4 separate regions of the Homo sapiens genome follow, and all the other regions are linked to region 3. The links come from fine-mapping of genetic effects on gene expression. A gene starts in region 3. Each other region holds a variant in brackets. All regions are shown on one strand. Distances are from middle to middle.

Region 1 (5,983 bases), 270 kb after region 3:
ATAGCGTCCCCTCCCTCCTCCCCTCCCAATGCTGATCCCTCATGAGTTATTTCTGTTGGCCGCATTAGGAACCTGACATTTGATTCATTCAGTGGGTCCTGCCTAGGTCCTTTAAAACAGAATGGACTGTTAGGGAAAGGCTGCCCTGGGCCATGCAGGCCGAGGAGACCAAGGGGATTGGAATAACCAGTATGGCAAAATGCTTGGTCAAGATCCAGACTCGACGAAGCCTCCAATTGCACATGGTGAACCACTGCAACAGTAATGTGTTTGTTCGTCTGCTGAGACTCGGCTCCAAGGTCACAGCTCGTAACACTGGTATGTGTGGTGCCCTGGGCTGTCATCCTGTTCCTGAAGTGTGCGGGCTTCCAGCTTCCTGCTCACTGCTGGTGGAGAGAGGCCCAGGGTGAATTTGGTGTCAGAGGTTTTTGATAAGGATGAAAAGAGAGAGAGGAAGGGAGAAAAGCAGAGACGAGTGGGAAGGAGGGTGAGCAAGCCAGTGCAAAGGGGAAACAGGAGGGTGTGTTCCAAATGATATAAAGTTGTCATAAATACAAATTACACCCTAGTCAGCAGTGAGTCAGGAGGGAGAGGGAGGCAGTGGTGGTGTGTACCTCCAGATTGTTCCATAACATGAGAAGATTAGGGAGAAGGCAGAATGGATGATCACAACACGCTCCCCCTCCTTTCATTGTTGAAAGGGTCAGAGCTCAGATCTGCTTGCTTGCTGGGGTGAGGCGGAGCACCACTTTTATCCTCAAGGCAGAGCTTTACTCAAAATATTGGCCAAAGAATTGGAACTGACCTTCTGCCAATTTCCTTTTCATTGTAAATATATTTTGTTATTTTATGGTCCTTGAGGGAAATAGGAATTGAAATAGGAACTTAAAAAGTTAGAGCTTACAGCAAGAAAGAAGCTGTGGCTATATGTATAAATGTGGTTTTTACCAATTGATTAACACAAAATACAACCTGGAAAATGTCTGTAATTGGCTATATCTCATGCACATGTGTGAAACTGACTTCTAAGTGAATTGAGACGAAATTGATTATATTTGTATAATGACATAATACATGATGTGTTCTTGTATAAAAGAGTTTTTAAAAGAACAAATATATAGATGCTTTCCGTTAATACTCCCAATAGTTGATCTATGAATACTGCCACATGGGATATAGGATTTTTTTTTTTTATAAATGGGATTGTTCAAGATATATTATTGCAGAATTAGTTTTCTTACTTTATCATATGACTTGAAGGACTTTCCATATCCATACATATTAATATACATCCTTTTTATAAATGGCTGGATAATATTAGGTAATATAAAGATATCATAACTCAGTTATTTAATTACCAAATTATTGTTGGAAATGGTTATGGCTCGTTTTTTGGCTGTAACAGATGGTACTGCAATGCATATGTATACAGAGGCATTTCTCTTTAATAGATGCTTCAAAGTATAATTGTTGGGTTGAAGGATATACGAATTGTAACTTTTAATGGAAATGGGCAAATTATCCTCTAAAAGCAAATTCTAACAAGGTGAGTATGAGCTTGACTATTCCCCCACATAATCACTCACCCTGATATGGCCAGTTTCTTAAAAGTTTTGCAAAATGGTTGAAAGGAAAATGAGATTTCATTGTTTTAATTTGCATATCCCTTTTTATCAGTGAAGATGAGGATCTTTTCAAATAATTGTGTATTTTCATTTCTTCTTTGCAGAACTGCCTATTTGTTTACTTAGTACATTTCTATTGTGTTTTTGTCCTTTCCTTATAGATTGTAGTATTTCTTTTATAATGTGAATATTAATCCTTTATATTTTACAAATGTTAATGTTTTCTCTCCTAATTGGTTCTTGGCTTTCAACTTTTATTTAATGTTAACTTTATGACACAGGCACTTTTTTTTTTTTTTTTTTTTTTTTAAGAGTCTCGCTCTGTTGCCCAGGCTGGAGTGCAGTGGCACCATCTCGGCTCACTGCAAGCTCCACCTCCCGGGTTCACACCATTCTCCTGCCTCAGCCTCCCGAGTAGCTGATATTACAGGCGCCTGCCACCACGCCCGGCTAATTTTTTGTATTTTTAGTAGAGACGGGGTTTCACCGTGTTAGCCAGGATGATCCCAATCTCCTGACCTCGTGATCCGCCCGTCTTGGCCTCCTATAGTACTGGGATTACAGGCATGAGCCACCGCACCTGGCCGACACGGGCACTTTTTATATGCACAGAGAACTTCTGTATGTGCAAACTATTTGCTTTCTGTATATTTTAGGTTTCTGTTTTTATGTTAGTTTTCCCCATGCCAAGATTATAAAAGTGTTTCCTGTTTTTATTCTTCATAATTAATGCATTTACTTGAACTCTATGAAATTGCTGATAATAACTGCTTATGACCTTCAAAATTGGCAATTTCACGTGGTATCTAATTTTTTTTTTAGTTTAACCCTTTATCTTCTTAGGAATTTTTACACGTGCATGACATGGTATAGGGATATACCTTCCCCCCTCCCCCCACAATTGGTTAGCAACTTTTTGCAAAACTTTTTCATAAACAAATTTTCCATTATATTAAAGGGTATATTTCTGAATTATATCTTTTATTATTCCTGCTCCATTACTATACAGTATAGTTTTAATATCAGGTAGGTCAGGTTTCCCCTGCATTGCTTTTTTTCAAAGGAAGTTATACTTTTAGAATGATTTTTAGGTTCACAGTAAAATTAAAAGGAAGGCATAGAAATTTTCCACATATGGGGAATTTCCCTCACACATGCTCAGCCTCCCCCATCATCAACATCCCACACAAGAGAAGTACATTTGTTACACTTGATGAGCCTGCATTGAGACATCATGACTATTCAAAGTTGATCGTTTGCGTTAGGGTTCACCTTGGTGGTGTACATTCTGTGGGTTTGGACAAATGTTTAATGGCATGTATCTACCCCTGTTGTATCATACATAATAGTTTGACTGCCCTAAAAGTTCTGTGTTCCACCTATTTCTCTCTCTCTTCCCCTAATTCCTGGCAACCACTGGTCTTTTTATGATATTCATAATTTTGCCTTTTTCAGAATGTCAATTAGTTGGAATCATACAATATGCAGTCTTTTCAGACTGGCTTCTTTCACTGAATAATATGCATATAAGCTTCCTCTATAGCTTTTCATGGCATTTCTTAGCACTGAATAATATTCCATTGTCTGGATGTGCTCACTGATTTATTTTCCAGAAGTTTTTGATTATTAATGTGTACATTTACCATTTGTCTTTTTTGAAAGTGTGTTGGATTTTCTATTGAAATTGCATCAAATTTTAGATTAATGAGAGGAGAGCTGAATTTTCAATGTATCAAGGCCACTATTCAGGAACAATATTATGTTTTTCTATTTATTGAGATTTTCTTTTATGCTACTTTGTTATATTTTAACATTGTCCTCATGCAAGTTTTCCAGGCTTCTT[G/A]TTATGGATATTCCTGGATATATATGGATGTTTTAATTTGTGCATTTGGCTATTTTGAATGATACTTTCCATTATCATTTTTTATATTGTCTCTTCTGTATGCAGTAAACCACCTGCTTTAATATGTTGATCTTGCATTCCAACACCTTTTTAAACTCTTATTAATTGTCCTGTTTCATTTTCATCTCTTTTCTATGTAGATAATTCTATTATCTGGAACTAGAGTTTTGTGCCTTACTTTCCAATATTTACACTTCTTATTTTTTGTCTTCATCATATTGCATTAGCTAGGGCCAATACTGATGTGTGGTGATAATTCTTTGTAATGTTCCTGACTTTGGTGGGAATTCTTCCAACGTTTTGCTATTATATAATGTTTGCCATGACATGTAATGATTTCTACAATTCTCTAGTAGATATTTCAAGTCCCTTCCTTTCAGGAGATAAAATTTTAGTGGAAAAACCCATAATAAATCTGCAGCACAGTGTAATGACTGACTGTGAAGATAAAGAGATCCAGAAGATGGTATGACAGCTGCATCACTTAGGATGCCATCATCAGCAAGTAATGAGGAATTCTAATTAGCACTGGTTTAAATAATAAGGTGATTTATTATCCAAGACAAGTCCAGAGTCAGAGAGGATTCCAGGGTTGAGGACCAGTTTCATTTTATCTCTACATCACTCTTCTCAGTCAGCCAAGCTTCCCCTCATGCCGTTGCTGTCAGCACCATAGGACGGCTGCCAGTTTCTGCTGTTTCTTTCAGTTACAACAATGTCAACAGATAAGGAGTCTGTACCATTCCAGGATGATCTTCTTAGAAGTAAAAACCTTTCTCAAAAATCCATCCCCTCAGGCCCCCTCCCCTCTTCCCCTTTGATTTTTATTTTCAGGGTTGGCCCATATGCCCGTTTTAAAACCAAATGTGACCAAGAGACTGGAATTACCACGACTGGCTTAGACTAATCATTTGGAGAGAAATGGGCCATAAGGAGTCAACCATGAAAAGTACCAGATAAGTAGCATATATCTCAGTCCGGGAGTGGGGGATAGGAGAGCCTTCCCAGAGGACATAACACATAGGGTCTTAGAGGATGAGTAAGAGCTATCTGGGTGCAGAGGACATTCCAGGAAGAAGTAGCAGTCTGTGCAAAGACACAGAGGCATGACATAGCATGACACATATGGGAACCCCTCAATAGGTGGGCAGGGAGGAAGCGTATGTGGTAGAGTAATGCTTTTTGTACCAGGCTAAAGAGTTTAATTTAATATTTAACCTGAAAGGCTGAGAAACCTTTTAAGAAGAGGACTGATATAAATAATTAGGCATTTAAAAATGATTATTCTGGAAACAACTTACAATAAGCTGGACTGAAATCAAGGAAACCAGTTAGGAAGCCATTGCTATCATCCAGTTAAGAAGTGATAAGAATGGAGAGGCAGGGATAACTTTGAAAATGAAGAAGGTGGCAGAGTTTGCAGAAGTTAATGACAGATGTGAGCAGTGCATGAAAACAAGTAATTTTGGCCAATCCTTGGATTGCTGATATAAGAAACTGAAGAAAATATGGTGTCATTTACTACATAGTGTGTGTTATTGGAGGTAAAGAGTTGGGAGGGAGATGATGCATTTGGGTTTGGATGTATTGAAGTCGATGTTCCTATGTACAGTTGCCTGGTAAATCTCATTGGAGGGTTCTGAGTTGAGATAGACCAGAGATTCAGCAACATGGATTTTCCAAACTAAGTTGTGTTCTATGTTCTCTGGGAGAATTAATTTGAGAAATATTGAGTTACATGAAACTGATTTCTTCTATTCAGGACCTTGCAGACATTTTTATATACTAGTAGTAATATTATTGAGTGCTTACCAGTGTCAGGCACTTTGCATGTATTAACTCAGGTATTCCTCTCCACACAATATCTGCATGCAGTATGTGCTGAAATTTTCCCCATTTTACAGATGAGGAAACTGGGAATAGCACAATTAGGTAATTAAGAAACTGTCGGTGGCAATTAGTACAAAGCCAGGATTCGAACCCAGAAAGGTGACTTCAGAGTTTGGATTTTTAACCTTGATGGTAATATCCAAAAGAGTGATAGAGTGTGCAGTTTCCCAAACTTAGCTGACCATGGAACACTCTTTTCAAGGGACAGCTGGCAGAACCTTAAGGGACACTGGTGACCTGTAGTACCAGGTTGAACAATACTGTAGTAGCATATTGGAGCCATAAATATGGTTGAAACACCAAGAAAGAGGGTACAGAGCAAGAAGAGCAGAGAGTTTAGGCCCTCACAAGTAGTGAAGAGACTGTGAAGACAGAGGTAGCTTAGAATCATTGGATGGAAACCAAGAGAGTATGGAACCTCAGAGGTTGAGTGATCTGTAGGAGGACAGAAGAAAACACTCATTGGCTTTAGCAATATGGTGATCATTGGAGACTTTGTGAGAGCCATTTCAGCAGGTGGGGAGAGCAACTGACCATGGTGTCAAGATGGTCAGCAAAAGTAGAG
Region 2 (5,983 bases), 310 kb after region 3:
CTGCTGAGCATGTGGTCAGGATTGTTGGTAGAAGGCTAACCTGGGTCTCAGAGATTCAGTCAACTATGGGGCCTAGGAAAGATATTCTATAAAGGTGTCCCTGCCTTGAACAAGGAGCTTGGTAAACATATTCTTCGGTGGAGGAAGTGATTTTAAGCAGAAGGAATTATAGGGAAGGTTTTGGAAAAGGGAATGTACCAAAGGAGGGAATTTAGGGGGATAGAGAGCATAGTCAAATTTAGCTTCTGTGTCTTCCAGTGTGAGTTGGTTCCCATGAGTTGGAGAAGTGATATAGAAGACCATAGAATAGAAAACATAGCCAAGGCCATCTTCAAATATTTTTCCCTATTGGCACTTTTTCAGAGGGTTCAATCAGCCCTAAAACTTCCTTCCTCTTCCATGGGATAGTTTCTCCGGACTGTGCTAAGTCTTCCTGAAGTGGAATGTTCTTTGCCTTTCTGTTTTTCTCTCTTTCTATGTATGTGTGTACAGATACACACACACACACACACACACACACACACACACACAAAAGGCCAGACATTTCTATAACTTATTCTCTAAAATTCACTTCATTTGGGTCTTTCATTACAAAAAAGGCTCTGCCTTCTTTCCAATTAAAACAATTGATGATGAAAAGAATCCAGATCCATGGCAGTAGGCTTGATAAAGAATTGGTAAAGAAAGTTACAAAGAGCAAAATAAAAACCACCCATAATCTTACTCCCCAGGAATAACCAATGCTAACTTTGGATTTTAATTTTTCAGAATTGGAATAATGCTAAGTCCTTCAATGTGGGGCAGAAGGACTAAGCAGAGGGTCTCTCAGAGTGTTCTGCTTTATAGTTTTTCACAATGAAAATACACCTATCTGTCTTGATCCCAGGCTTTCTGCTGCTACCAAATGCCTACCTCTAACATCCCCTATGGCAGGAGAGGCTCTCATTTTAGGAAGACCCTATTTACTCTGGCACATGACTTCTCCATTCTACTATTTTATGTATCCTAGTTGGCTGCAAGCATCCAATTCTTCTGACGCACAGCCTCAGAATCTTGTCCCTGGGACCCAGCTGTTGGCCATCCCATTGGCCTCTTGGTGTGGCCCGTTGCTTTAGTTCCAACTGCAACAAAAGTCAGTTTCTCTTTTCAACTGCTGATTTTTGGCTTCTCTAAACAGCATGCCCATCATGTCTTGGGCCCCTAGCCCACAGGTCCTGCCAAAGGATTAAGTTTCCAAAAGTTTGGCTTGTTGTGTCCAGATCAAATTTAAGTTGGGTGCAAATTGCTCCCTTCATGGGAGTCCACATGGACTGCTCTACTCCTCCACCAGCAGCAGATCATCTAAATCCTTTTGCAGACATGCTAATTCTAGCTTGAAGGAAAGAGTCTACGTTCCTCCAGGGGGAGCTCCATAAATAGCTCCAAGGACAAGAGAAAGGCATGTGCCCTATCTTCCTCCAGGGGGAGCTCCATAAATAGCTCCAAGGACAAGAGAAAGGCATGTGCCCTATCTTCTTCTTAGACATTACTTTCTATTTAAGTAGGACTGGCTCCCTTTGATCTCTGCCTCTTTGCTTGCATACAGGTTTCCTTTACAGACATGCTTCATTCCACTGTGCTCTGCTTTATTGTGCTTTGCAGATATTGTTGTTTTTTACTTTGAAGGCACACCCTGCGTCAATAAGTCTGTCGGCGCCATTTTTCCAATAGCATGTGCTCACTTGGTGTCTTTGTGTCACATTTTGGTAATTCTCACAATATTTCAAATTTTCTCATTAGTATTGTATCTGTTATGGTTGTCTGTGATCGATGATCTTCGATGTTCCATTGTAGTTGTTTTGGGGAACCACGAACCAAACCCCCAGAAGACAGTGAACTTAATTAGTAAATGTTGTATGTGTCTTGACTGCCTCACTGACCAGCTGCCAGCTGTTCCCCCATCTTTCTCCTTTGCCCCAGGCCTCCCTATTCCCTGAGATACAGCAATATTGAAATTAGGCCAAGTAATTACCCTACAATGGCCTCTCTAAGTGTTCAAGTGTAAGGAAGAGTTACACATCTCTCACTTTAAAACAAAAGCTAGAAATGATTAGGCCTAGTGGTGAAGACATGTTGAAAACTGAGATAGGCCAATAGCTAGGCCTCTTGCACCAGTTAGCCAAGTTGTGAATGCACAGAAAAAGTTCTTAAAGAAAATTGCAAGTGCTACTCCAGTGAACATACTAATGATAAGAAAGCAAAACAGCCTTACTGCTGAGATGGAAAAAGTTTTAGTGTTTTGGATAGAAGGTCAAACCAGCCACAACATTCCCTTAAGCCAAAACCTGATCCAGAGCAAGGACCTAGATCTTCAAGTCTATGAAGGCTGAGAGGGGCGCAGAAGCTGAAGAAGAAAAGTTGAAAACTAACAATGGTTTGATTCATGAAGTTGAAGAAGCCGCCTCCATAACATAAATGTGCAAGGTGAAGCAGCAAGTGTTATTGATCTCTAGCTAAGGTCATTGATGAAGGTGGCTACACTAAACAACCAATTTTCAATGTAGACAAAACAGTCATCTATTGGAAGAAGATGCCATCTAGAACTTTCACAGGTAGAGAGGAGAAATCAATACCTGATTTCAAACCTTCAGAGGACAGGCTGACTCTCTTGTTAGGGGCTAATGCAGCTGGTGACCTTAAGTTGAATCCAATGTCTGTTTACCATTTAGAAAATCCTTAGAGCCCTTAAGAATTATGCTAAATTTGCTCTGCCTGTGCTTTATAAATGGAACAACAAAGCCTGGATGAGAGCACATCTGTTTTCATCATGTCTCACTGAATATTTTAAGCACACGGTTGAGACCTACTGCTCAGAAAAGAAGATTTCTTTAAAAAATATTACTGTTAATTGACAATGCACTTGGTCGCCCAAGAGCTCTGATGGAGATGTACAAGGAGATCAGTGTTGTTTTCTTGCCTGCTAACATCACATCCATTCTGTAGCCCATTGATTAAGGAGTAATTTTGAATTCCAAGTCTTATTATTTAATAAATAAACTTTGGAAGGCTATAGTTTCCATGGATAGTGATTCCACTGATGGATCTGGATAAATGGAAAAGCTTCTGGAAAGGATTTACCATTCTAGATGCCACTGAGAATATTTATGTTCATCAATAGCAAAGTCATGGAATCAACCTAAGTGTCCATCAATGTTTGATTGGATAAAGAAAATGTGGTATATAGAAACCATGGAATACTATACAGCTTTCTAAAAGAATGAACTTATGCCCTTTGCAGCAACATGGATGGAGCTGGAGGCCATTATCCTAGGTGAAATAACTCAGAAACAGAAAATCAAATACTGTGTCTTCTCACTTACAAGTGGGAGCTAAACAATGGGTACACATGCACATAAATTTGGAAACAACAAACACTAGGGTTTCCAAAATGGGGGAGGGTGGAAGAGGGGTTGGTGAGGGTTGATTTCATGGGTTATACCTATTGAGTAGAATGTTCAATATTTGGGTGATTTGTTCACTTGAAGCCCAAACTTCACCATTAT[A/G]CAATATATCCATGTAACAAACCTACACATGTACCCCTGAATCTAAAATAAAAATAATAACAAAAATGAACATTGTGACTCATGAAAGGAGATCAAATTGTCAACATTAACATAAATTTGGAAGACGTGGATTCCAATCATCCTGAATGACTTTGAGTTCAAGACTTCAGCGGGGACAAGCACTGCAGATGCGTTAGAAATAGCGAGGAAATGAAGATGGCCGAATAGGAACAGCTCCGGTCTACAGCTCCCAGCGTGAGCGACGCAGAAGAAGGGTGATTTCTGCATTTCCATCTGAGGTACCGGGTTCATCTCACTAGGGAGTGCCAGACAGTGGGCGCAGGTCAGTGGGTGCGCGCACCGTGCGTGAGCCGAAGCAGGGCGAGGCATTGCCTCACTTGGGAAGCGCAAGGGGTCAGGGAGTTCCCTTTCCGAGTCAAAGAAAGGGGTGACGGACGGCACCTGGAAAATCGGGTCGCTCCCACCTGAATACTGTGCTTTTCTGACCGGCTTAAAAAACAGCGCACCATGAGATTATATCCGGCACCTGGCTCGGAGGGTCCTACGCCCACGGAGTCTCGCTGATTGCTAGCACAGCAGTCTGAGATCAAACTGCAAGGTGGCAGCGAGGCTGGGGGAGGGGCGCCTGCCATTGCCCAGGCTTGCTCAGGTAAACAAAGCAGCTGGGAAGCTGGAACTGGGTGGAGCCCACCACAGCTCAAGGAGGCCTGCCTCCCTCTGTAGGCTCCACCTCTGGGGGCAGGGCACAGACAAACAAAAAGACAGCAGTAACCTCTGCAGACTTAAATGTCCCTGTCTGACAGCTTTGAAGAGAGCCATGGGTCTCCCAGCACGCAGCTGGAGATCTGAGAACCGGCAGACTGCCTCCTCAAGTGGGTCCCTGACCCCTGACCCCCGAGCAGCCTAACTGGGAGGCACCCCCCAGCAGGGGCACACTGACACCTCACAGGGCAGGGTATTCCAACAGACCTGCAGCTGAGGGTCCTGTCTGTTAGAAGGAAAACTAACAAACAGAAAGGACATCCACACCGAAAACCCATCTGTACATCACCATCATCAAAGACCAAAAGTAGATAAAACCGCAAAGATGGGGAAAAAACAGAACAGAAAAACTGGAAACTCTAAAAAGCAGAGCACCTCTCCTCCTCCAAAGGAACGCAGTTCCTCACCAGCAAGGGAACAAAGCTGGATGGAGAATGACTTGGACGAGCTGAGAGAAGAAGGCTTCAGACGATCAAATTACTCTGAGCTACGGGAGGACATTCAGACCAAAGGCAAAGAAGTTGACAACTTTGAAAAAAATCTAGAAGAATGTATAACTAGAATAACCAATACAGAGAAGTGCTTAAAGGAGCTGATGGAGCTGAAAACCGAGGCTCGAGAACTATGTGAAGAATGCAGAAGCCTCAGGAGCTGATGCGATCAACTGGAAGAAAGGGTACCAGCAATGGAAGATGAAATGAATGAAATGAAGCGAGAAGGGAAGTTTAGAGAAAAAAGAATAAAAAGAAATGAGCAAAGCCTCCAAGAAATATGGGACTATGTGAAAAGACCAAATCTACGTCTGATTGGTGTACCTGAAAGTGATGGGGAGAATGGAACCAAGTTGGAAAACACTCTGCAGGATATTATCCAGGAGAACTTCCCCAATCTAGCAAGGCAGGCCAATGTTCAGATTCAGGAAATACAGAGAACACCACAAAGATACTCCTTGAGAAGAGCAACTCCAAGACACATAATTGTCAGATTCACCAAAGTAGAAATGAAGGAAAAAATGTTAAGGGCAGCCAGAGAGAAAGGTCGGATTACCCTCAAAGGGAAGCCCATCAGACTAACAGCGGATCTCTCAGCAGAAACCCTACAAGCCAGAAGAGAGTGGGGGCCAATATTCAACATTCTTAAAGACAAGAATTTTCACCCCAGAATTTCATATCCAGCCAAACTAAGCTTCATAAGTGAAGGAGAAATAAAATACTTTACAGACAAGCAAATGCTGAGAGATTTTGTCACCACCAGGCCTGCCCTAAAAGAGTTGCTGAAGGAAGCTCTAAACATGGAAAGGAACAACCAGTATCAGCCACTGCAAAATCATGCCAAAATGTAAAGACCATCGAGACTAGGAAGAAACTGCATCAACTAACAAGCAAAATAACCAGCTAACATCATAATGACAGGATCAGATTCACACATAACAATATTAACTTTAAATGGAAATGGACTAAATGCTCCAATTAAAAGACACAGACTGGCAAATTGGATAAAGAGTCAAGACCCATCAGTGTGCTGTATTCAGGAAACCCATCTCACGTGCAGAGACACACATAGGCTCAAAATAAAAGGATGGAGGAAGATCTACCAAGCAAATGGAAAACAAAAAAAGGCAGGGGTTGCAATCCTAGTCTCTGATAAAACAGACTTTA
Region 3 (5,983 bases):
TATAGTCCTATTCTTATTCCCAGATTCCCACTCTTTCCTGCTGATAATTATAAAATCTTGTGAGGCCGATAATTCAATTGACTTTGTAATTTGGCGATTTGTAGATGAAATTGTGAATTTGGTTTTTCAGTTTTGGCCTTGTGGCTCAATTAACAAGATATTCTTTGAGCTCTGTTGTTTGTAAAAATACAGTTGTTTAAAAGTCATAAGCTGATAATTTAGGACTTAGTGCATCACTACTTTTCTTTCAGTGGTCCAGTTTTAAACTCATCCCTTGAGTTCATTCTTTGAGTTCTTCCTAATCTTCATATTATTATTATTATTGTTGACAATGGCCAGTTGGTTTCCCAGAGCCTTGTCTTCATTGGGTAGTTCAATCCAGGTGACCATACTTGGTAATTTACCTAGCTGTCATGCCAAGTGCTTCCAGAGCCTGTATTTTCATACTAGTTGAATCTCAGCCTTTATTCCTAATCAGGCCAGACAACCAATCTCAGATTCTTCTCATTTCTTCAAAATTCTGTTTCTTACAGTCCCACATTGGGTTATCTTTATTCTGTCTTTTTCACTACTGTCCTTGTTGGTCTTATTTTGCTTCCTTGGAATTTGGGGTAACAATTTTTGGGTATTGATATGACTCTTTTGGAGCCTAACGGTCACTATAATAGGATGGACAAGTGTGTGTGTGGTCTTAAAAGAAAAGCATGGACTGTTTGGCTGGTGACTTTTCTTTGATCTCTGGGCTGTCTGCTCTTTTGGCTAGCAGAGATGATCCAGTTTTCAACTTGGGGCAGGTCCCATCCCTGCCACCTCATATGTGCATATGGGGATTTACAGATTACAGCTGTAAGATGTCCTCCACTGACCCGGTGTCATACCAGCTTCCCAGCCACCTGTGGGATGAACAGGTGTTCTCTCCTTTGAAATGAGAAAAGAAATGGAGAGACTTTTCAAAGATCCCCAGGATTAGCCAGTAGCTGGGCCAAGAATGAAATCCACATCTTCCCATACCCTCAATACTGACCTCTCCATCAGGATCTGCCCTAACATTTGAAGGGCCCAGCTCAAGAGCCTACATGAATGCCCCATACTATCATCTAAATATTCATAAGCAATAGTCAGCTATTGAGTGCTACATAAAACATTCTCTATCCTCCTATCTTGACAAATTGTTGCAATTTGGAATTTCCAGGAGCAGATACTGAGACTGAGTTTGTCCTGTGTGGTATTTATTAGTGATCAACAGGGAGAGGAGGCAGGAGCAGGCAGAGAGAGAAGTCCAAATGCAATGCGGACTCCCCCAAACCTTAGCCAACCCCACTAGGTGTCCTAGAGAATATATGGCCCACCAGACTGTCCAGGGCAGGTAAAATTTGTGTGCCACTCTTCCTCGACCCCCAGGACAGGGCATATCTTTGGATGAGGGGACTCTATGCAGGCACAAACCTTGAAAAAGCTGACAGCTGGTCAACACCTCCTCTTCTAACAAATGTTCCTTCCTAATGACCTGTTCTGCTCCGGCAAGAGCAACAGGGTGAGAGGACTTCCATCTCTCCCAGCTCCTGGACATTCTAGTGCTCACATTCAAGCTCCATACCCCTGACTCAACAGCTGCTCCTGGCCACTCTCGGGCCTACGGTACCTGACACAGTGGCTCTAGCCACCTTGGGGACAACAGAGAGGCAGGATACCTCCTACCTTCAACACCCTGGAGGCGCGTGGGGAATTCCAGAGTCCTCAATACCCAGAGATTGGACTAAAACGGGATGGGGCACATCCGCTTTGCCATTAGACCTCTTAATTCCTGAGCAACCGGGAACTGGAGGAGGTCTGTAAAGCAGGGGAGTAGGATAGGAACCTATCCCTCTTGCTCGGGTCAAAGGTATGCTATCAAAGATCACACTAAGATGTTGGGAGATTTAAAGGAGGATTTGCACATGGAAGGCTCTTTTTTGGAGAAAGAGACTGAGTCCTAGCTAGCATTAAATAAAACAATGGCTTAAACAATCTCCATGAGTACCAGAGATTTTTACTATTAGCGATATTCCTGGTGTAGCCGTGTCAGGGCTGTCACTCTCTCTGTCACTCGCCCTGGGCCCAGCAATCCTTTCCCGAGGCGGAATCCCCCTGGCGGTGTGGGTCAGGATCGCTCTCCGTCCCCTACCCGCGCCAGGTCCCTGGAGCTGAGCAGAGCAGGGCGCTGTCGAGCGCGTTGGGGAGCCGGGGCCGGGACGAGCACAACCGGGAGCCCGAGCGACAGCGGCCAGGGGAGGGAGGAGGCGGTGAGGCTGAGGAAGGCAGTCGGGCCCAGCTTGACGCAGCGGCGGCTGCGACTGAGCAGGCCACCACCAGGGCACCCGGGCCAGCCGCGCCAGCCATCCCTCCGCCTCCTCCTTCAGCTGCTCGGCGCGCGTGGGAGTGAGTGCGTCGCGAGCCCGCCGGGGGTCTCAGGCTCTGGGCGTCCTCGGCGAGCGAGCCCGGGCAGAGGGAGGCGCACGAGCGCGCGCGACAGAAGGAGGCGGGGAAAGGAGGGGGCGAGGCGGAGGCGAGCGAACAGAGGGAGGGACCCGCCCGCCGCGCCCCGGCCGCTGGGCATGTGTGTCCGCAGGCGCCCGACGCTGCCGATGTCCCGGGGCTGAGCCGCGCCCAGGTGTCCCGGACAGTGCGTGCGAGCGTGTGTGTCCGCGCAGGCGAGCACCGCGCCGGCCCTGAGCCTCCCGCTCGCTCCCCACGGCCGCGGTGCATGTTCGCCTCCTGCCACTGTGTGCCGAGAGGCAGGAGGACCATGAAAATGATCCACTTTCGGAGCTCCAGCGTCAAATCGCTCAGCCAGGAGATGAGATGCACCATCCGGCTGCTGGACGACTCGGAGATCTCCTGCCACATCCAGGTGCGCGTGGAACCGGGCGAGGGCGCGGGGCACACGCCGGGAGCAGGGCGGGGGGCCTTTGCGGTGGGCATGCGAGAACAAGGAACCCACTCCCGGAGGGGATTGGGGGACTGCTAGAAAGCCAGATTTCGATTCCTCAGGCCTCTGAGGGTGGGGGGCCTTATCCTGGCATGGAGGGGCATGGTGCCCTGCAAGCGCCAGGCACGCGTTATCCGCGCCCAGTCTCCTTCCCCTCGCGTGCACCCTGCGCGCGCGTCTCACTGCGCCCGGGCTAGGGGCGCGGGGCAGCTGCCTCCGGAGGGACTCTGGCCCCTCTGGGCCCTACTCCGCCAGGAGATGGGAGCTCCGAGGGCTGAGAGGGGCACCTGCATGTCGCCCACTGGTATTTCCTCCCTTCTTCCACGTGGAGAAGGCATGCATCAGCTGGGTTCACTCATTTCTGTCTCCCGCGCCCAGGCTCCGGAGACGCCCTCAGTCCCGGAACCTGCTTTCCGCTCCGTGTCGGTCCCCCTCACCCTCCGCCGGTGGTCTTTAGTTCTCCGCGTGGGGCGGTGGCGAAGTTTCCCCAGAGTGAGAGAGGCCGGGCTGCCCTGGGCGCCAGCCTTGAGGGATGGAGCGCGCGCTGCGCCGGACTGGAGCTACCTCGAAAGGAATGTGTGAAGTCTGAGTGTTTCGGAGAAAGGAAAAGGGATTGTGAGGCCAGCAAGTGGGGAGCCCTGCAGGAACCTGGGTCCTGGGTAAAAGAGCCCCGTGGAATCTTGGTGGACATTCACTGTCGCCCAAGTTGGAGGAGAAGGCGAGTTGTTTGGGAGAAGGCAGCTTTGCTGGCAGCCCTGTCCTCGGGTAGTAAGTGCCTCTGGGCTGTCAGGAGAGCTAGTGTGAGGTGCAAAGGTGTGTGTGTGCATGTGGTTGCGCGTGCGTGTGCATATTTGCTGTGGGTGAATATGTAGGCAGGTGGGAGCCCCTCTTCCAGGACCCCAAAGATGCCCCACTCGGTGCGCACACAATCAGGAAAGGTTGTGTCAGGGCTCAGCACAATTAACTTCTGACTTCTAAATCTATTTAACTGTTTATCTCTGGGATTTCCTTTCTCACCTACCCTAGTCGAGTCTTGAGGCTCTGGGACTGAGCTTTTTTTTTTTTTTTTTTTTTTTAGTGTAATACAGGGCACACCACCCATGTCAGTGGGAGGTGAGTGGGGCAGCATCTCCCAGAGTAGGAATCAGCCTCTAGGCTGTGCAAACCATGAAGGAATGAAAGGACTTTCCCTGTTTTATTTTTATTTAATTTTTGTTAGTGGGAGTGTGTGACATGTTGGGGGCAGTTGCAATTAATTTGTAACCTGACAGCCGGACAAGTGTCAAGGTAGGAATGTGATGCCCCATGATCTCCCAGGAAAGTAGGCTCCCATTGAATTTTCTGGGGGAGCTTGAATTTCATTCTGAGCTAAGCAGCACTGCTAAACTTAATAATAAAAGGATTAGCAGGATAGGCAGTGTTTCTACTGCCACAAGGGTTGCACAGAAGCATCTGGCATGTACTAATAGTCTTGTGATCCAGAGAGTGTGGACTGTGCACTTTGCTTTAAGTCCTAAAGTGGGTGTACAGGTCCTTTAACCCATAATGAATGTGTAGATGATGGAGGGGCCGTCAGGGAGAGAGGCTGTTGAGTTCTCCTCTGTCTCTCAGCCCTCTTCTGCCCTGTACCACTTGGTGTTGACATTTTTTTCCCCTCCCTCAGGATGAAGTCTTCCTTAGAATAATAAATATTCCCCAAAGGACATGTATTTGTTGTCTTGTGTTTTGAGAAACAATAAATTGTAGCCAGTCTAACAACAGTTTGAAAAACTCCAGTGCTTATGACCCAACTAGTGCCAAAGAGGTTAAAATGTTATGTTTCAAAATGTTGGCTTGGGCACTGATTTTTAAAAAATTATGATGTTTCATTTTGTGATTTGTCTTTTTCTGCCCTTTCTGCCCCCAAATTACAATTATTATTTAACCAATTAAAATAAATTAAAATATTTTATTTGGATAACTTTAGACCTCACACTTTCCTAGAGTACTCCAGACCAGGAATTGAAATTGCCCTTCCGGGTATCAGGTAACAAAGACTTCCCATTTGCTTAGAGTGAGAACAAAAGGATTAAAAAACAATGCGAAACAAAACCATTTGGAATTACTGGCACTTGTTCTGGGTGAATCCATCTGTGTTTGCTTCCTTCCTTCTATAGAACTACAAAGTTAAAGGATTGTATATATTGTCACAGAATGTCACCCTCTCTCCATAGCCCACATCTGCCTGTCTGCGTTAGGAGCTCTCATCCCTGGTGTCTGCCTGGCTCTGGAGCAGGGGTGTCCAATTTTCTGGCTTCCCTGGGCCACATTGGAAGAAGAAGAATTGTCTTGGGCCACACATAAAATACACTAACGCTAACGATAGCTGATGAGCTAAAAAAAAAAAAATCACAAAAAGTCTCATAATGTTTTAAGAAAGTTTATGAATTTCTGTTGGGCTGCATCCAAAGCTGTCCTGGGCCATGGGTTGGATGAGCTTGATCTAGAGGCTCTGTAGGAGGAGCAGGAGCTCTTGGACATGTGTTAGTTGTTCACTCCTGTTCACTACAGGAGTGCTGCCTATGGAGCCCCAAAATAAGTAGGGGAAACTCAAGCCACACATCCTTGGGAGCTCATTAGTCTGTGTTCTCTAGTAGGTAAGCATTCCAGATTCAAAGAAAAATGAGCCACTCAAACAGGTTTCTCTAGCAAGGTGCTGGAGAGTGGCCACACATGGTAGATGCAAGAGATGATAGAAACCTTCAGGACTATTGCTTGAGACAATGTGAATAGCTCTAGGTGCCATTTCTTGAGCATCTCTCATGAGCCAGCCTTTTCCACTCATTATGTCTGATCTCTACCACCAACCTTTGAGTAGGTATTATTCCCTTCTTTTGGGTAAGAAAACTGAGAAGCTAATAACTTAAGTGACTTGTTCAAGGCCACATCTCTAAAAAGAGAATGAGCAGCTGGAATTCAAATCCAGAATTGTCTGGATCCAAAGCTTATGTATGTCTTTGACATATTACCCCATAG
Region 4 (5,983 bases), 300 kb after region 3:
TTGCTATAACAGAATACCTGAGACTGGGTAATGTATAAAGAACAGAAATTTATTGGCTCATGGTTCCAGAGGCTGAACTCAGCAAACTGAATCCAGAAACACGTGGGAAGGATTATATACTATGATCAAATGGGAAGTTCAATATTGAGGGGACACATCTGTTGAGGGCCTTCTTGCTGCATCATAGCATGGTTGAAGGCATCACACAGATGAGAGACAGAGAAGGGAACAGGGCCAAAATCATCTTTTTATCAGGAAACCACTCCTTTGATAACAACATGATTATATTCCTGAGAACAGAGCCCTCAGGACCAAATCACATTTTAAAGGTTCCACCTCTCAATTTTGTTACATTGGGGATTAAGAGAATAGAAAAACAATAGGTAAAATCTATAAAACCAAAAGTTCGTTCTTTAAAATGAAAAATGCCAATAAAATGAACAAGCCTTTAGCTAGATTAACCAAGGTAAAAAGACAGTATTAAAATTACTAAAACCAGGAATGAAATAGAGGATGTCATTATGGACCTTCCAGAAATAAAAAGGAATATAAGGAAACACTATGAAAAGTTGTGTATTAACAATTTATCTAACCTAGACAAAACAGAAAAACTTCTTGAGGGACACAAACTAACTTACAAAGAGATGGAAAATTGCAATAGATCTATAACAAGTAAAAGATTGAATTAGTAATAAAAAATTATTTCTTCAATGAAAAGTGCAGGTGATGATAGCTACACTGGTCAATCATACCAAACTCTTAAAAAACAAACAGCACTTCACAAACTGCCAAAAAACAGAAGGGAGGGGGCAATTCCCCATGCTCTGAGGTCAGTATCATTCTGATGCCAAAACCAAAGACATTACAAGAAAACAAAAGTGCTGACAAATGTATCCTATGACTATAGATGAAAAAAATCCCTAACAACAAAAAAATTACAATTGAACTGAATCCAGCAACATATGGGAAGGATTATATACCTTGATCAAGTGGGATTTATCCCAGGAATGCAAGGTTGTTTAACACATGAAAGTCAATCAGTGAAATATACCATGTTAGTAGAATAAAGGACAGAAATTGCATGATCCTCTCAACAGACGCAGAGAATGCACTTGACAAAATCCAACACTCTTTCACAATTAAAAAAAAATGAACAATGAATAGAAAAAAATATCCTCAATCTAGTAAAGACTGAAAACTCCACAGCTATCATACTTGAATTCAACTGAGGGGCGTAAGACAGAGTGCGAGACTGAGCAAGATTTAGAGCAGGAGTGACAGTTTATTTAAAAGCTTTACAGCAGGAATGACAGGAAGTAAAGTACACTTGGAAGAGGGCCAAGCAGGGGACTTGAGAAATCAAGTGCACTGTTTGACCTTTTAACTTGGGGTTTTATACATTGGCATGCTTCCAGGGTCTTGCATTACTTCTCCCCTGGGTCTTCCCTTGGGCTGAGCTATCTGCATGCACAATGTGGCTGCATGTGCAATATGTTCACTGAAATTGCACACATGCTCACTTGAGGCATTCCCTTACCAGTTTGTAGAGGAAGGTCATGTACCAGTTAAACTCCACCATTTTGTCTCTTATTGTGCATGATTGAGCCCATTTGTCCAACTCCTGAGATCTTTTTGGGAAGCTGCTGATAGCCAGTTTCAGGTTTTTTCTCTCTATTGGGAGATTGTCTCTCCCTGGTGCTGGCTGTGACCGATTATTTTAGAAAGACAGTTAAGAACCGCCTGACCATCACCTGATGTTCGCCTGACATTCCTGGTGTTTCCTGCCCTGTTCATGTCTGACTAGCTACTGACTGTAACAAGACTTGTACATTGTGATCAACAAAACTTCACTGAAAAAAAGAAGACCTAAACAAATGAAAAGACATCACATGTTCGTGGATGGAAAACTTAATATTGTTAAGATAGCAATACTCCTGAAATTGATTTTCAGATTCAAGGCAATCCCTAGCAGATGTCAGCTTCCTGTTTTGTGGAAATTGACAAATTGGTCCTAAAATTTTATATGGAAATGTAAAAGGTACAGACTAACCAAAATAATATTGAAAAAGAACAAAGTTGAAGGACTCGCACTTCCCAATTTCAGAACCTAATGCAAAGCTGCAGTAATCATGACAGTGTGGTACCAACATCAGGATAGACATATACATCCGTAAAATAGAACTGAGAGTCCAGAAACAAAACTATGCATTTGTGAAAAATTGATTGTGAACAAGATGACAAGACAATTCTAAGGGGAAAGAATAGTCTTTTCAACAACTGATATCTAACAGCAAAATCATAAAATTGGACCAATTTCTCACACTGTATACACAAATTAGCACAAAATAAATCAGAGACCTTGTGTTTAATAAAATTTACAAAACTTTTAGAAGAAACATAAGATCAGATCTTTGTAACCTTTGATTAGAGAGGATGGTTTCTAAGGACAGCAAAAGCACTAGAGACAAAATAAAAAATAGGTAAATTAGATAGTAATAGATAAATTTAAAAACTTTTGTGCTTTAAAAGACACTGTCAAGAAAAGTGAAAAGACAAAACACTGAAGGGATGAAAATATTTTTAAATCATACATCCGATAATGAATTTGTACCCATAATACATAAAGAATACTTACAACTCAGTAATAAAAAACATAACCAATTTTTAAAGTAGGAAATGTTATCACAATAGACATTTTGGTAAAGGAAATATGCAAATGGATAGTAAGCACACGAAAAGATGTCCAATATCATTAGTCATTAAAGAAATGCAAATCAGTGCCACATTGAGATTCTACTTTACACCCACAAGAATGGCTATAATAAAAAGACAGGCCACGAAGTGTTGCTGAGGATGTGGATAAATTGAAACCCTCATATATTCCTGGTAAAAATGTAAAATTGTGCAGCTACTAGGCTGGGCGCGGTGGCTCACACCTGTAATTCCAGCACTTTGGGAGGCCGAGGCGGGCAGATCACGAGGTCAGGAGATCGAGATCATCCTGGCTAACACGGTGAAACCCCGTCTCTACTAAAAATACAAAAAATTAGCCGGGCGCTGTGGCGGGCGCCTGTAGTCCCAGCTACTCCGGAGGCTGAGGCAGGAGAATGGCGTGAACCCGGGAGGCAGAGCTTGCAGTGAGCCGAGATCGCGCCACTGCACTCCAACCTGGGCGAAAGAGCGGGACTCCGTCTAAAAAAAAAAAAAATTGTGCAGCTACTTTGGAAAACAGTTTCGTAGTTCTTCAAAAAGTTAAGCATAAGGTTACCATACAAGCCAGCAATTCCACTCTTAGGTATATACTCAAGAGAACAGAAAACATATATTTACACAAAAAAA[T/AT]GGGTAATTTTCATAGCAGCACTTTGCATAATAGCACAGAAGTGGAAACAACCCGTATGTCCATCGGTTCGTAAATTGCATAAACAAATGTAGTGTATCCATTCCATAAAAATGAATGAAGTATTGGTACACGCTACACCATGGATGAACTTTGAAAACATTATGCTAAGTAAAAGAAGCCAAAAGCAAAAGGCCATCTATTGCATGATTTGATTTATATAAAATGTCCAGAATAGGCAAATCTATAGAGACAGAAAGTAGATTAGTGATTTCCACGGGTAGGGAGAATGAAGAATGACTGCTAATAGGTACAGAGTTTCTTTTTTGGGTGATAAAATTTTTCTTTGAATTATGTAGTTGCGATGGTCGCATGACTCTGTGAACAAAGACCAATGAATTTTATGCATTATTTATGGTATGTTAATTATAGCTCAACAAAGCTGTTAGCAAAAATTATATTTGTTGTGGTTCACTATGTTATTTTTTAACATATTTTGTGAGGAGTACGAGTTGAGTAGCTTTATTATAACCAAGAACCTTTCCATTTCTATTTGTCAGCAAGTTTTGTCAGTACTTAATTCTATCAAAATGAAAAATAGATAATGCTGAACCCAGTTTCATTTTAGCGATAAGTAATATTTGTGCATAAAGATTAAATAATTTGATTTATACCATTGATATTTACTTCTAATAAATTTTTAACTTTTGTTCAATAGTTACTTAAGCTATTATGAAATAACTATTAATATTTTCTTATGAACTATGAATATTAATATTTTAATAGATTCTACAAAAACTATTAAAAACAAAAATTTTAATTTTTTTACACAAAATAATTTTGTGCATCATTATTAGTGCTTCTGTAAAAATGACAAAAGGCCAGAGTATAAAATTGCTGCCTAGGAGATACTGATATAAAGATAGAAGTAGCTGGCATATCTGGAACAGAAAGTCGGTGTAATATGATGGCTAAGAGCTCAGGCTCTCCAGCCAGATGGCCTCAGCTCTGGTCTCAGCTTTCCTGCTCTTCTTAGGTGTAACTTTAGGTAACTCATTTGATCTCTTGAATTCTTGGCATCCTCATCTTTAAAATTATGTTTAACTACAGCACTTATCTCAGAGCTGTTATGGAATTTAAAAATAAGTTAGAATTTGCAAATCCCTTAGCAAAGTCTTGGACATGTAGTAACTACTTGAGAAATGCTAGGAGTTAAGGCCCATAATCTGGCACCTCCAGGTCATTCTAGACTCATCGTAACCATTTCACTCTTTGAGGACATCCTGTTCTACTGAAGTAATAGCATCATGGTGGCAATGCATAACAAAATTGGATTTGGAAGTTTCAGAAGATATAACAAGAACCAGAATTTGCTTCTAAAAAACATCTATTTTTCTTCTACATTTATTTATAAACAAAACATCTCGTTGCCTATAACGTGGATACACATCCAAAATAGTAAGACATCAGAAAATAGAATACATCAAAATTCCTTTCAGGAGGAAACTGTGTTTGTAAGAAAGAAATGTTTTTTTCTAAGTTGTTCAAAGTAGGGAGTATATTGCAAATGTATAGTCAAGTTACAAATGCAAGGTCTCCTGATTTCTTTCTCTGCGTGACTTTCTTTTTTCTGGTCCTCTGTCCTGTGCTATTTACCTTTTGATAAATGTTCGATGTGGAAGTTGATTCTCAGAACCCTTGGCACAATAGCCTTGGTTACCCACATCCATTTCAAGAGCTCCTAACAGTTTGGAAACACTGGATCTTGCTTTGGGTGCAGTTGAATCTTCAACCCCTGTGGTGAGACCTATTTCTATGTAGATTAGAAAGAAACAATGATAGCACAGTGATTGCAAAGATGAAGAAACAGGATTTGAATTCATTTAATTTCACCATTCAGTGTGACTCAATCACAATTTAAAAATTTTTTAATTTAAAATTTAAAATGTTTGCCAACTATGAAGTGTAATATTTTTGTTTTATAAGTGCAAATTTTATTTCATACATATTTTCTGAATATGATAACATTTTAAAATTGCAATGTATTCTTTTTAATTGTTAATTATTTGTCTTCAAACAAAAGAACAAATAAGAAAACAAAATCTCACATTAGTAATTGCCTAAATTAGGTCGGGCGCAGTGGCTCATGCCTGTAATCCCAGCACTTTTGGAGGCCGAGGTGGGAGCATGGCTTGAGCTCAGGAGTTTGAGATCAGCCTGCGCATCATAGCAAGAGTCCATCTCATTTAAAAAAATTTAAAATGTAATTGCCTAAACTATACTTCTGCAGACATTTTAGTTTTATTTAAACCTAGTTATTGGACTGTCATTTACGTAAATATTAATATATCAGACTGTAACCAAAGGATCAAAGTTCAGCCATTTAGGTGGATATAAAAATTAATAAAAAATAGTTGTAGGCATTTCCTTTTATTTTAGAAACTTATATAATTATATATAAGATTATACATAGTTTAATAGAACATTTTCACTGCTTTGTTTTTCTGAGCATTATTTGTGTATATATATAATCCATAATTATGTATGATATTGTCAATTACACGTATTATAAAGACATAATTATCATCATACTCATGGCCATTATTGAAAATAATTTTGTTGTATAGAGAAGGGAGGTGTTAAAAA

Evidence for each region. PIP is the estimated chance that this variant, and not a neighbour inherited with it, causes the effect. A credible set is the group of variants that fine-mapping cannot tell apart.
Region 1: its variant is the best candidate, but not a certain one, in a credible set for the expression of FRMD3 in whole blood (INTERVAL, PIP 0.83).
Region 2: its variant is the best candidate, but not a certain one, in a credible set for the expression of FRMD3 in left ventricle (GTEx, PIP 0.70).
Region 4: its variant is the best candidate, but not a certain one, in a credible set for the expression of FRMD3 in atrial appendage (GTEx, PIP 0.58).

What each region holds. Positions count from the first base shown.
Region 1 is chr9:83,261,347-83,267,329 of GRCh38, reverse strand. The region is part of intron 13 of FRMD3 (FERM domain containing 3); the gene reads left to right. All of the region lies in intron 2 of FRMD3-AS1 (FRMD3 antisense RNA 1), which reads right to left. Among named protein-coding and RNA genes, the nearest start is that of FRMD3-AS1, 45 kb to the right of the region's middle. The variant G/A (reference allele first, on the strand shown) is at 3,469.
Region 2 is chr9:83,226,722-83,232,704 of GRCh38, reverse strand. The region is part of intron 1 of FRMD3-AS1 (FRMD3 antisense RNA 1); the gene reads right to left. Among named protein-coding and RNA genes, the nearest start is that of FRMD3-AS1, 10 kb to the right of the region's middle. RefSeq lists an enhancer at 4,236-4,937. The variant A/G (reference allele first, on the strand shown) is at 3,543.
Region 3 is chr9:83,534,992-83,540,974 of GRCh38, reverse strand. It overlaps FRMD3 (FERM domain containing 3), which reads left to right and starts at 2,574. Exons shown (of 14, transcript NM_174938.6): 1 at 2,574-2,890. The coding sequence starts at 2,744. RefSeq lists a silencer at 4,327-4,621.
Region 4 is chr9:83,234,832-83,240,814 of GRCh38, reverse strand. The region is part of intron 2 of FRMD3-AS1 (FRMD3 antisense RNA 1); the gene reads right to left. Among named protein-coding and RNA genes, the nearest start is that of FRMD3-AS1, 18 kb to the right of the region's middle. The variant T/AT (reference allele first, on the strand shown) is at 3,340.